3 linked regions of the Homo sapiens genome follow. The protein of the gene in region 2 interacts with the protein of the main gene of each other region in a biochemical or structural test. Each region holds a gene or a part of one and is shown on either strand. Other genes may lie near its edges.

Region 1 (3,658 bases), on a different chromosome or scaffold from region 2:
GGGTTCTGCCCCATCTATTATATGCTCTATCTTCAGTCACTCCCCTAGTTGGACTGAGATCCCTGTGTCTTCCTCTTGCCCCCTGGAACCCAGATGGCAGGTCCTGAAGACAGGAACCAGACCCTCTCCCTCTCCCCTTGTCCAAGGATCCAACACAGTCCGCAACACATGATAGCGGTGGTCCAGGATGTTTTGCTAAATCTTTGGATAAATTTCACTGGGTTGACAGTGGGTACTGAGCCACCATCTCCATGTGCAGACCCTGTGGGACCATGTGGGGGACCTGTGCTACATGCAGGGATGGGACAGACACAGAATGAGCACATGGCCTTTCTGTGAAGAGAGGTGAGCACCCCAGAGGCTCACTCAGGGGTTGGGGCCCTAAGTGGGATGTGTGGCCTTTCAGAGAATCCAGGCCTGCAGCTGTGCTGATGAGACAAGCGAACGTGGGGGTCAGGGACATTCCAGGTGCTGGAAACCATGCAGAGTGGCCAGAAGGCCCTGAAACACCTGTTCTGGGAGAGCCAGTCACTGACCCTGTGTCCAGGGGCCATGGTGGTGACTTCACCCAGCCTGTGTCCTTGCCATCTGCTTACACATGGCAGCAGGCTGACCACTGAGCCACAGCCTGTGTGCTTCCCATCTCCAGGGTTCTCTGGGGCCTCAAGATGCCCTGGGTCCTGGGGAAGCTTGCATGGACAGAAGGGGAGATGTGAGTGCCTACACAGGCTTCTCAGACCACCTGCTGGGACCTGCAAGTCCTCTGTCCAACTTTACCAGCTGTGACCCCCAGGGGCCCTTCTCAGTGCTGTCAGCCTGGATTCTGAGGTATAGGTTTGGGCAGTCACGAAGGGAAGAAGGTGCCTTGAGTCTGGGAACCCACGACCCTGAACAGCTGGCAAGCCCTTTTGTGTTCTCCTCTGTGGGGTTCCAGCTAACACCTGTCCTCTGTATGTGCTCCAGGTGTTCTGCTGCAGGTGGGGGTGGGCTGAGCATGACAGTTCCCTTAACCCTGGGATCTGGACCCCTCCAGCCTTCCTTTGGCCTTAGACAAGCCACTCCCTTTTGCTGGCATCAGACGCTTGTTCAACCAAGGGGCTTCCAGGGTCTTCCCTAATGTTAGCATTAAGCAGGCTATGACTCTTGAGGAGTGTCTGGGGCGCTGTGTTCTGGTGGAGCAGGTCCCTGCACCAGAAAGTGGTCCTGTCTAAACCTGCCATTTCCATATTAAAGTGACTTATTCAGCACTTGCTCAGTGCCCAGGGTGAGCCACACATGGAAGAAGATCAGACTCTGAAATGCTCACTGCTTTCTCTATCATTCAGCCAAGACTTATTGAGGGAATGAATGAATGATACGTTCCTGGAGGTGGCACTGAGCATTTCAGACTAAGTTAGCCAGCTCAACCTCCTTGTGAGGTGGGGCCTGTATCCCTCATCTTGCGGATGGGGAAACTGAGGTTGAGCTGGTAACCAGTGAAGTGTGGGTGTGAGCCAGGTCTGTCCCATGTCAATCTGGAACCATTTTCTTATCTGCTTCTTCATGGTATTTCCTCTAGCCCAGCACCAGCCGCCGGAACACAGATGACAGGGCTGTGTACACACATGCTCATGTATGCATACACATATGCACTAAGATATAGATGGCAGGGCTGTGTACCTACACACACACACACACACACACACACACCAAGACACAGACAGCAGGGCTGTGCGTGCACACACACACACACACCCGAGACACATATGCCTGGGGTCTCTCTTGAGTATATGATGAGCACCAAAGCAGAGGTCAGGTGAGGGAAGTTTAGGAGCAGGGAGGTCCTGTCGTCTGGAAATGGGATGACCGTGGAGACAGGCCCTGAAGGACAGGGGGCATTGCTCAGTGGGAGGGAGGATGTTCCCCATGGGGAAATGTGTGGAGCAAAGGCATGAGGAGGAAGGGGAGGGGATGTTTTGGTGGGCAGAGGTTGGGAAGGGCAGTGGGGAAATCCTGGGACAAGCAGCTTGTGTCAGACCCTGAGAAAGTCCAAAGGACTCATTCCCATTGCTGGGAACATGAGTCCCTGCAGTGGCCTCAGCCCCTGGTTTCCCAGAATTGGAGGGGGTCTTTGACCGGGAGGGGTTGGTCTTTACTGGCCTGGAGCCCTCCTCTGCCGCCCCTGCAGGCAGTGGGATGGTCCCCAGGTCTTAGAGTCCTCAGGATGTTCCCAGGCCCCTGGGACTCCTAAGCTGGAACTGGAGCCTCTTTGCCAGCCCTGATCTGCCTGAGACCCTCTCACCACCTCCCAAGGAGTTTGGCCCAGGGTCTCACTGCCTGATCCCTGCCTGTGCCACTGCCTGTGAGGCGGTGAAGTGAAAAGGTGGACTTGTCCTGTCTTGGGGACAGGTCCCTGTGTGGAGCCTCCTTTCTGCACTGACAGGTAGGTCAGGGTGGAGGGTGAAGGACTCCGCTGGAACGGTCTCAGGCTTGCAAACGGAGCCTTGCTAGTGAGTACTCAAGTTATGGCCCCTTGGGCCTCCCCTGTCCTGGCATCCCCAGTGTGAACTGTAGTGGAATTCTTATGGCTGTCCCCTCTCCAGGTGGGTGTCCCAGAGCAGGCGGCTGCAACGAGACAGGCATGTTGGAGAGGCTGCCCCTGTGTGGGAAGGCTTTCGCAGACATGATGGGCAAGGTGGACGTCTGGAAGTGGTGCAACCTGTCCGAGTTCATCGTGTGAGTGCCACTGCTGGGCGTGGGATTTGCTCTGACCACAGCGCTGCCCACTGCCCAACCACTGCCTGACCACAGCCTGACCGCACTCTACCCAAGGCCTCACCCATGCCTCACCCACAACCCACCGTAGGCCACCCACAGCCCTTTCATGTGCTGCCCCACACTTTGCCCAGGGCCCCAACCACGCTCCTATTCACACTCTGCTCTTGGCTCTGGCCACCCCACCCACATCCCCCTGGCACATCACTCACGGCCCCGCCCATGCCGTGCCCCTGCCCACGGCATTTGTGCTCCCCACACCCACAGCGGGTTCCCAGCTTCCTACCCCCCATTCCGCATCCTCACTCTGATGTTCTAGCAATTCTACACTGTGCCTCTGCTTCTCCCTCTCCTCTGTTATTTAGGAATCCTCCCCATGCCTGCTTTTCCTCCTGATCCAGATTAGTGCCCTGCCCTGGGAGTGTCCAGTTCGGGGGTTCCCTGGCCTGGGGGTGCCCTGTCTGGGAGGTGCTCTGCCTGGAGGGTGCCCTGCCCGGGGAGTGTCCAGTTTGCGGGTGGCCTGGCCTGGGGGGTGCACTCTCCCAGGGGTGGGTGCTGCCCTACCCCAGGGGGTGCCCTGGCCTGGGGGATGCCTTGCCTGGAGGGTGCTCCACCTCTCCTTACAGCTGGAGCTGGGTGGACATTGTCATGTGTCTTTCTTACAGCACCAGTCATGGCTGGGTCTGTCCTCAGTGGTCAGAGGACTTAGAGGAATTGGGTTCCAATGGTTTATATCAGGTGTAATTGTGGACAACACCTCATAGTGAAGGGAGGTCCCCTTGTTCTAGAAGCTTCCCAAGCTTTTCATCTCCTTACCTCCTTGGAAATTGCTCATGGCCTCACAGTCCTCTGCCCCACCCCACTCCACCTCTGGCTTTGCAGTCTTGTGCCACCCCCTGGTGGC
Region 2 (2,328 bases):
CTAAAGAGTCATCAGCCAGTTCATCTTTCCTCTGCCAATAAGAGTGGATAGAACAGGAATGAAGTGTTACTGGTGGTATTTCAGGCATCAGGAGCCTTGGAAAATCATCGTAGGGGCCCATGCCTGTCTGTCCCTAGGCACCTGGGCAGTGCCACAGAGGCCCGCCCACGACTGGCCAGGGGACAGAACTCCAGTAGTGCATCCCTGTACAACCTGCACATAACGGTTATGTATGTTCACCTAAAGGAGAGAATATACTTTCTATTCCTATTGCACAAAAACCTTGTAAACTTTGAGAGGTGCTGAAAAAGCCAATTCTGCAAGCTCTCCTAGAGGACTGACATTGTAACATTAGAGTGAGAAGATTTCTCTGCCACATTCTTTTGTGTTAATCCAGGTGTGTCTTCACACCCAGTGAGTGGAAGTTGCTGGAGCTCGGTACAGGTCCACCCAGCTGAAGTGGGTTCTTTTTCCCACTACCACTGGGGCAAGGGAGTGAGCCTAGGTATGGTCACCTCAGCAGCCACAGTCTTAAAAGCAAGTCGCTAGATTTTTTGAAAGTCCCAAGAGAAGTGGTGGTCTTCCCTTCTGTCATCCCAGTATATATAGTTATACATGTAAATATCTAAATACCCCATGTAATGGGAAGGCTATGTACAGGGCAGCCTTCCCAAACGCTGTGAGGGCACAGAGCTGCTGTGGCTGCTCCACCAGGGTGTGCTGGTGGCTCAGCTTTGGGGTTGGACTCCCACGTTCACCTCCCCCTCCTGGTCCAGGCAGAGGCACCAGAACCCATCCTGCCTTTTCTCCAGTGTGAGCATTTCAGGGAGCCACCATCAGCCTTGGGTTCATGAGAGGAAGAAACCCCCAAAGACCAATGCCTGGAGCCCACTTCTCCAGCGACACCTTCCCTCGCCAGAGCAGGCTCCTAGGAGTGCATGGCAGGGGTGCCGGGTCCCTGTGCACGGGTTTGCTTTCTGAACATTGCCCATCAACACCGCCTTCAGGGAGTCCCAGAGTAACCTACTACCTCCCCCATCGCTCCTCTGCCCCCCTCACCCTGTGGGCACCAACACCTCCCGCACACAGATGAAAACCATCTACAGAGCCCTTCCCGGGTCCCTCGACCCAGTGGTGTAGCCGTTACCAATGTTTACAACCAGGGGCCGCCCCTCCTTAGATGTGTTTACTCGCATTCACAGGCCACCTGTTGGTTTGAGTTTCATGTGTCTCCTTCCCTGGCCTAGGTTGACTTGAGCACACAACTCGATCTTTCTTCCCCTCCATCAAGGCAGTGTGTGAGGACTGTGTGGGAATGACATTTCTTGTACATACTTAGCACAGCACCTAGAGTATGAACTTGTACTATTGTTCTGTAAAGAGGGTGAAATAGAGCTTATTGTAAAGTGTCGGGAGAAGTATAGTATTGTATTTGTAACAATATCGTTCTTTGTATACACAAAACTCAATGATCTATATATAAATATAAATAAATATATAAATAAAATATATCTACACGTGAGCCTGGAATGTGGACACCGCACACCCACTGAATGTACTTCCTTGACAGTCTGGTCACTGGTCCCTCCCTCCCTCCCTCCTCCGTCCCGTGGCCACAGTCATCCAGTTTGGGGTTGTGATGTATTTACTGTGCTATCTATCTTCCTTTATTTAACTGAACGCTAATGTCTGTATAAGAGTTGCTGCAACAATAAACAAGAACTTCACCTCTTGGCCTGGCCAAGTGTCTTCTTGTTGCAGGGAAGGCTTGGGATCATGTGATGAGTTTGTCTTTTCCCTAACAGACTGACTGACTAGCTCCTACCCACCCTATAGGCGCCCAGAGCCCAGGAGTTCTCTAAATGAGCTTTTATTCTGTGGAACTGACTTGGTTTTAGACAAGAAAGGCTCTGTTCTCCTGTCCCAGTTGATCCTCCAGTCCTGTGGGTCTCCTTTGAGCACACTGAACTGGAGAAAGAGAAATTCTCCGGATTTCTTACTTGACATCCTCCATGAGGGCAGGAAAACAGGAATTAATTCTCCCCCACCTCAGTCATCTCCCGTAAGGGAGGTACCTTTTTGTAAGGGACTAAGATCTAAGTGGACGGTGGAAAACAGCGCCCTGAGAGGCCCATCCAAAGGTTCTGTGAGAAGGTTCTGGAAGGTTTCCTCCTGGTGCTCTTTGGAAATTCACTTTTTGAAGGTTGCCAGGCATGCCCTCCCTGCTGCCGGGGGCATGCTGGGGGCCCTGGACTCCCCAACACAGAGTGTCCAGCCCTGTTCCAAAGCAGACTGCTTGTCAGCTTTTTCTTTGCATACACCCCTCCC
Region 3 (3,658 bases), about 42 Mb from region 2:
TGATATACTACCTATAATGTAGCAACAATTACAGAATAGACTAACAAAAATAACTATATATGGAAGCATATTCATATTCTACAAAAGCACTTTCTGTCTGAAAATATGTAATACAGAAACCACAATGCAAAAGTTTCACAATTTAGGCTGTAAGAAAAATGAATGAGTTTGACTGGTAATTCTGGTATTTTCAATATTAGATAGCCAAACTCTTCAATGACATCTTTTACATCATCATCATTTATACTGCACCACTGGGACCCATGTTTCCCTAACGCTAATTCTATAATTTTAGGAAGACTCATAAGCTGACATTTAATATAAAGGTGCCTCATCCCCTTGTAATTCCTGGTGAATTACCTGGTGAATATTCATACTGTTGGTTACCTCTGACATAAAATAATGTGGTTTATGTTAGTCACTGAGAATCTATAAAGTAAGTTACAGTCAAGACAGAACTTACCAAGCACAATGACCACAGTCTTCAGAAGACTCATCATGGTATCCCGATTCCGCCGGGGTCCAGAACTATGCCGAGACATTCTCATAGTCCTCTGGCGAACATAGCCAAAGATGTGAGCATAGAGAACCACCATTACCACAAAGGTCACCAAGTTGAAAATGGCCCAGAAGACTAAGTAAGAGTCACTGTAGAGGGGTGCCATGTTGGAACAATTTTCAATATCACAGATACAGTTCCAGCCCACACTGGGTATAGCACCCATAACGATGGCCATAGTCCAGATGACCACAATGACCACCACTACCCGCCGGTTGCTCATCCGTGTGTGGAGCTGCATGCGGAAAACCGTAATGTGCCTCTCGATTGCAATAGCCAGTAAGTTGGCCACAGATGCCGTCAGGCTGGTGTCAATGAGGCCCTGACGAAGGAGCCATGTGCTAACAGTCAGTCTCCGAGTATTGGGTCCTGTGTTGAACATGAGATAGAAGTAGGCCAACCCAGCAAAGAAGTCTGCAGCAGCCAGATTAGCCATTAGGTAATAAATAGGAAAATGGAAGCGGCGGTTGACATAGATTGCCACCATGACCAATAGGTTGGCCAACATGATGAAGATACAAACAGTGATTCCAAGTCCCATCACCAGCTTGCTGACTGTGTTCCATTCTGTGGCAAGATGCTTTCCACTTCGGTTATAAAAGAAGGCAATGGACTCGTTGTAGAAGCACTGTGGTTCATTCATGGCTGTGAACTAAAAGAAAAAGGAGAAAAGATGATGAAAAAGAAGGCACAGGTCCAAATTTAAAGCTTATATAGATAACACAAGACTTTTATAGTACATGCAACAGAAAAACAAAAGCAAATAATTTGAACATTTGATCCTGCATACCATCTTGTGATTATGTTGAAACTCCAAGGTTTCTCACAATATTACTGTCCTTAAGATTAAAGGCAGTTGGAGTTAAATAAATGACAAGGTCTCTGCTTAGTGGTTTTATGTCATTGAAGTCTACTACAAAAGCCACATGGCCAAGAAATCTTGCTTAAAATACATGAGACAGACAAAAATTTTGCAGAACATTGCAATTGGAATATTTACCATAGTAAAATCTATTTGACCTGTTATTTAGGGAATCTGTAAACACAGTTGGTTTCTAGATAGGGTATCATTGCCCTATTATTCTGCATTTCTATTCTCACACAGTATGTTCCATGTGGGACAGACATTTTGTAATGCAGGTTCCCACAAGGACCATCATTCCAAACATTTCAAACAAGTCACTGTGCATCAAAGGTTTTTTGCCCAAAGCCAGCATTTGCTGCTCAACATTCCTGTGGTCAGCACTGCCTACCCCCACAACTCCTTAAGTTCAGAATAGGACTTGTCAACCAATCTATGACATTTGAGAATTTTTTTTCTTTTTGGAGGACCCAACGTAACCTCCAAAGAGTAGGTGACCCTTTGACAATGTTCTACAAGTAAAATATACTTAGATTAGATGCAGCATATTTTTTAAAGTGTGGAGTGAAAATGCTTTATAACATGTTTACTTATTCTTCAACATCATTGATAAGAATATATTTGCTTATTATTTACAATATTTATAATAATCACTTTAAAAAGGATTGAGACAGTTTAAAACAGAATAATATATGTTTATTTATCTATCATAATATATAATATATAATTATATATAATTATAATATGTAATTATATATAATAATATATTTAAACAAAATTAGAAAATAAGTAACAAACTAGAAATTAGAAAAGTATACATCACATAGAGTAAGTCATTCTTCTTGAAGCTCTAAGTTTACCTGGGACCCCTAAAATTAAAAAATATATCTTGAAGACGGTTCACATTCTACTTTTTCATTTTTATTTTGCTTTGAATCTAATAAATTACCCAAAACATATGACACTTTTAACCACTATTTTTGATCAAATATTCTACTGAATATCCATAGGTTGTACACTAAAACTTCCAAGAACAACGTGAAATACTTAAGTGGTTAGTCTTCTGACTTACCCAGGCATCTAAAGTCTCTTTCCTTATCTAGACTTTAATAGCTTTTAGATTATGCTTCAAATATTATACTTAATACATTGTATAATTATTTATCTCTTTACTTGTCTGCTTCTTAAAGAGATCACAGTCCAGGGCACAGTGGCTCACATCTGTAATCCCAGCACTTTGGGAGGCCAAAGTGGGTGGATCACTTGAGGTCAGAAGTTCGAGACCAGCCTGGCCAACATGGTGAAACCCCCTCTCTACTAAAAATACAGAAATTAGTCAGACATGGTGGTGGGCACCTGTAATCCCAGCTACTCAGGAGGCTGAAGCAGGAGAATCGCTTGAACCCGGGAGGTGGAGGTTGCAGTGAGCCAAGATCATGCCACTGCACTCCAGCCTGAGTAACAAAGCAAGACCCCAACTCCATCTCAAAAAAAAAAAAAAAAAAGACAAAGTTGATCAAGCTGTTTCCCCACTGGACATGTTTTAAGGGCTTATGAGTGCACGTTAGATAAAAGTCTAAACTTTTCAATCATCTTATCAGACCTTACTTACCTGCCTCTCCAGCCTCAACTCAAGATATTAATGACTCCAAACTCTCAGCTTCAGCTCTATTTAATGTGCTGTGCTCTCTCTCTCAACTCTGGTTCTCAACAGTGAAAACAGTGGTTTCTTGTATCAGAATTACCTGAGAGTTTGTAAAACACTGATTGCTGACATAACCCGCAAGAACTTCTGATTCAGTAGATCTGAGGTAGGGTCCCAAGTAATGCCAAGGCTGCTGGTCCAGGGAATCACTGTATCATAATTGCTTAATTATCTGTTGATCCCCTCTACACTAGGCTATGAAACCCTATAAACGCAGAGATTCTAGCTTGCTTATTCATTGTTGTATAGTATCCAACTGTTCTATGGACTACATGCTAAATACATATTGATTTCCTTAATAAATTAAAGATATTTCCAAAAATGTTTAAACTTTACAAATTTTCTTTCTGCAAAGGATATTTAAAACTTTGTCAAGACAAATATAAAAGTCTGTTCTTTTCATTAGTCTCTATAACCATCTACCTTCTCTGAATCAAGAAATGTTTAAACCAAATATCAAGCGTATATTATTTCCCAGCATTCCAACTTCTGAACACCAAGTAGCAACAAAGTTAAGCAGAGATATATGCAG

Evidence for each region.
Region 1: the proteins of APBA1 (region 2) and RAMP3 interact in a test that uses a peptide from one of them, tested with the Homo sapiens proteins (one large-scale study listed by IntAct).
Region 3: the proteins of APBA1 (region 2) and LPAR1 interact in a test that uses a peptide from one of them, tested with the Homo sapiens proteins (one large-scale study listed by IntAct).

Annotation. Positions count from the first base shown.
Region 1 is NC_000007.14:45,174,727-45,178,384, forward strand, and holds part of RAMP3 (receptor activity-modifying protein 3 precursor), read left to right. Parts: intron 1-2,582; coding exon 2,583-2,715; intron 2,716-3,658. UniProt on the Homo sapiens protein: Accessory protein that interacts with and modulates the function of G-protein coupled receptors including calcitonin gene-related peptide type 1 receptor (CALCRL), calcitonin receptor (CALCR) and G-protein coupled estrogen receptor 1 (GPER1).
Region 2 is NC_000009.12:69,426,938-69,429,265, reverse strand, and holds the end of APBA1 (amyloid-beta A4 precursor protein-binding family A member 1), read left to right. Parts: 3' UTR 1-1,734; downstream 1,735-2,328. UniProt on the Homo sapiens protein: Putative function in synaptic vesicle exocytosis by binding to Munc18-1, an essential component of the synaptic vesicle exocytotic machinery. May modulate processing of the amyloid-beta precursor protein (APP) and hence formation of APP-beta.
Region 3 is NC_000009.12:110,940,958-110,944,615, forward strand, and holds part of LPAR1 (lysophosphatidic acid receptor 1), read right to left. Parts: intron 1,212-3,658; coding exon 464-1,211; coding exon of another isoform or gene 384-463; exon of another isoform or gene 1-383.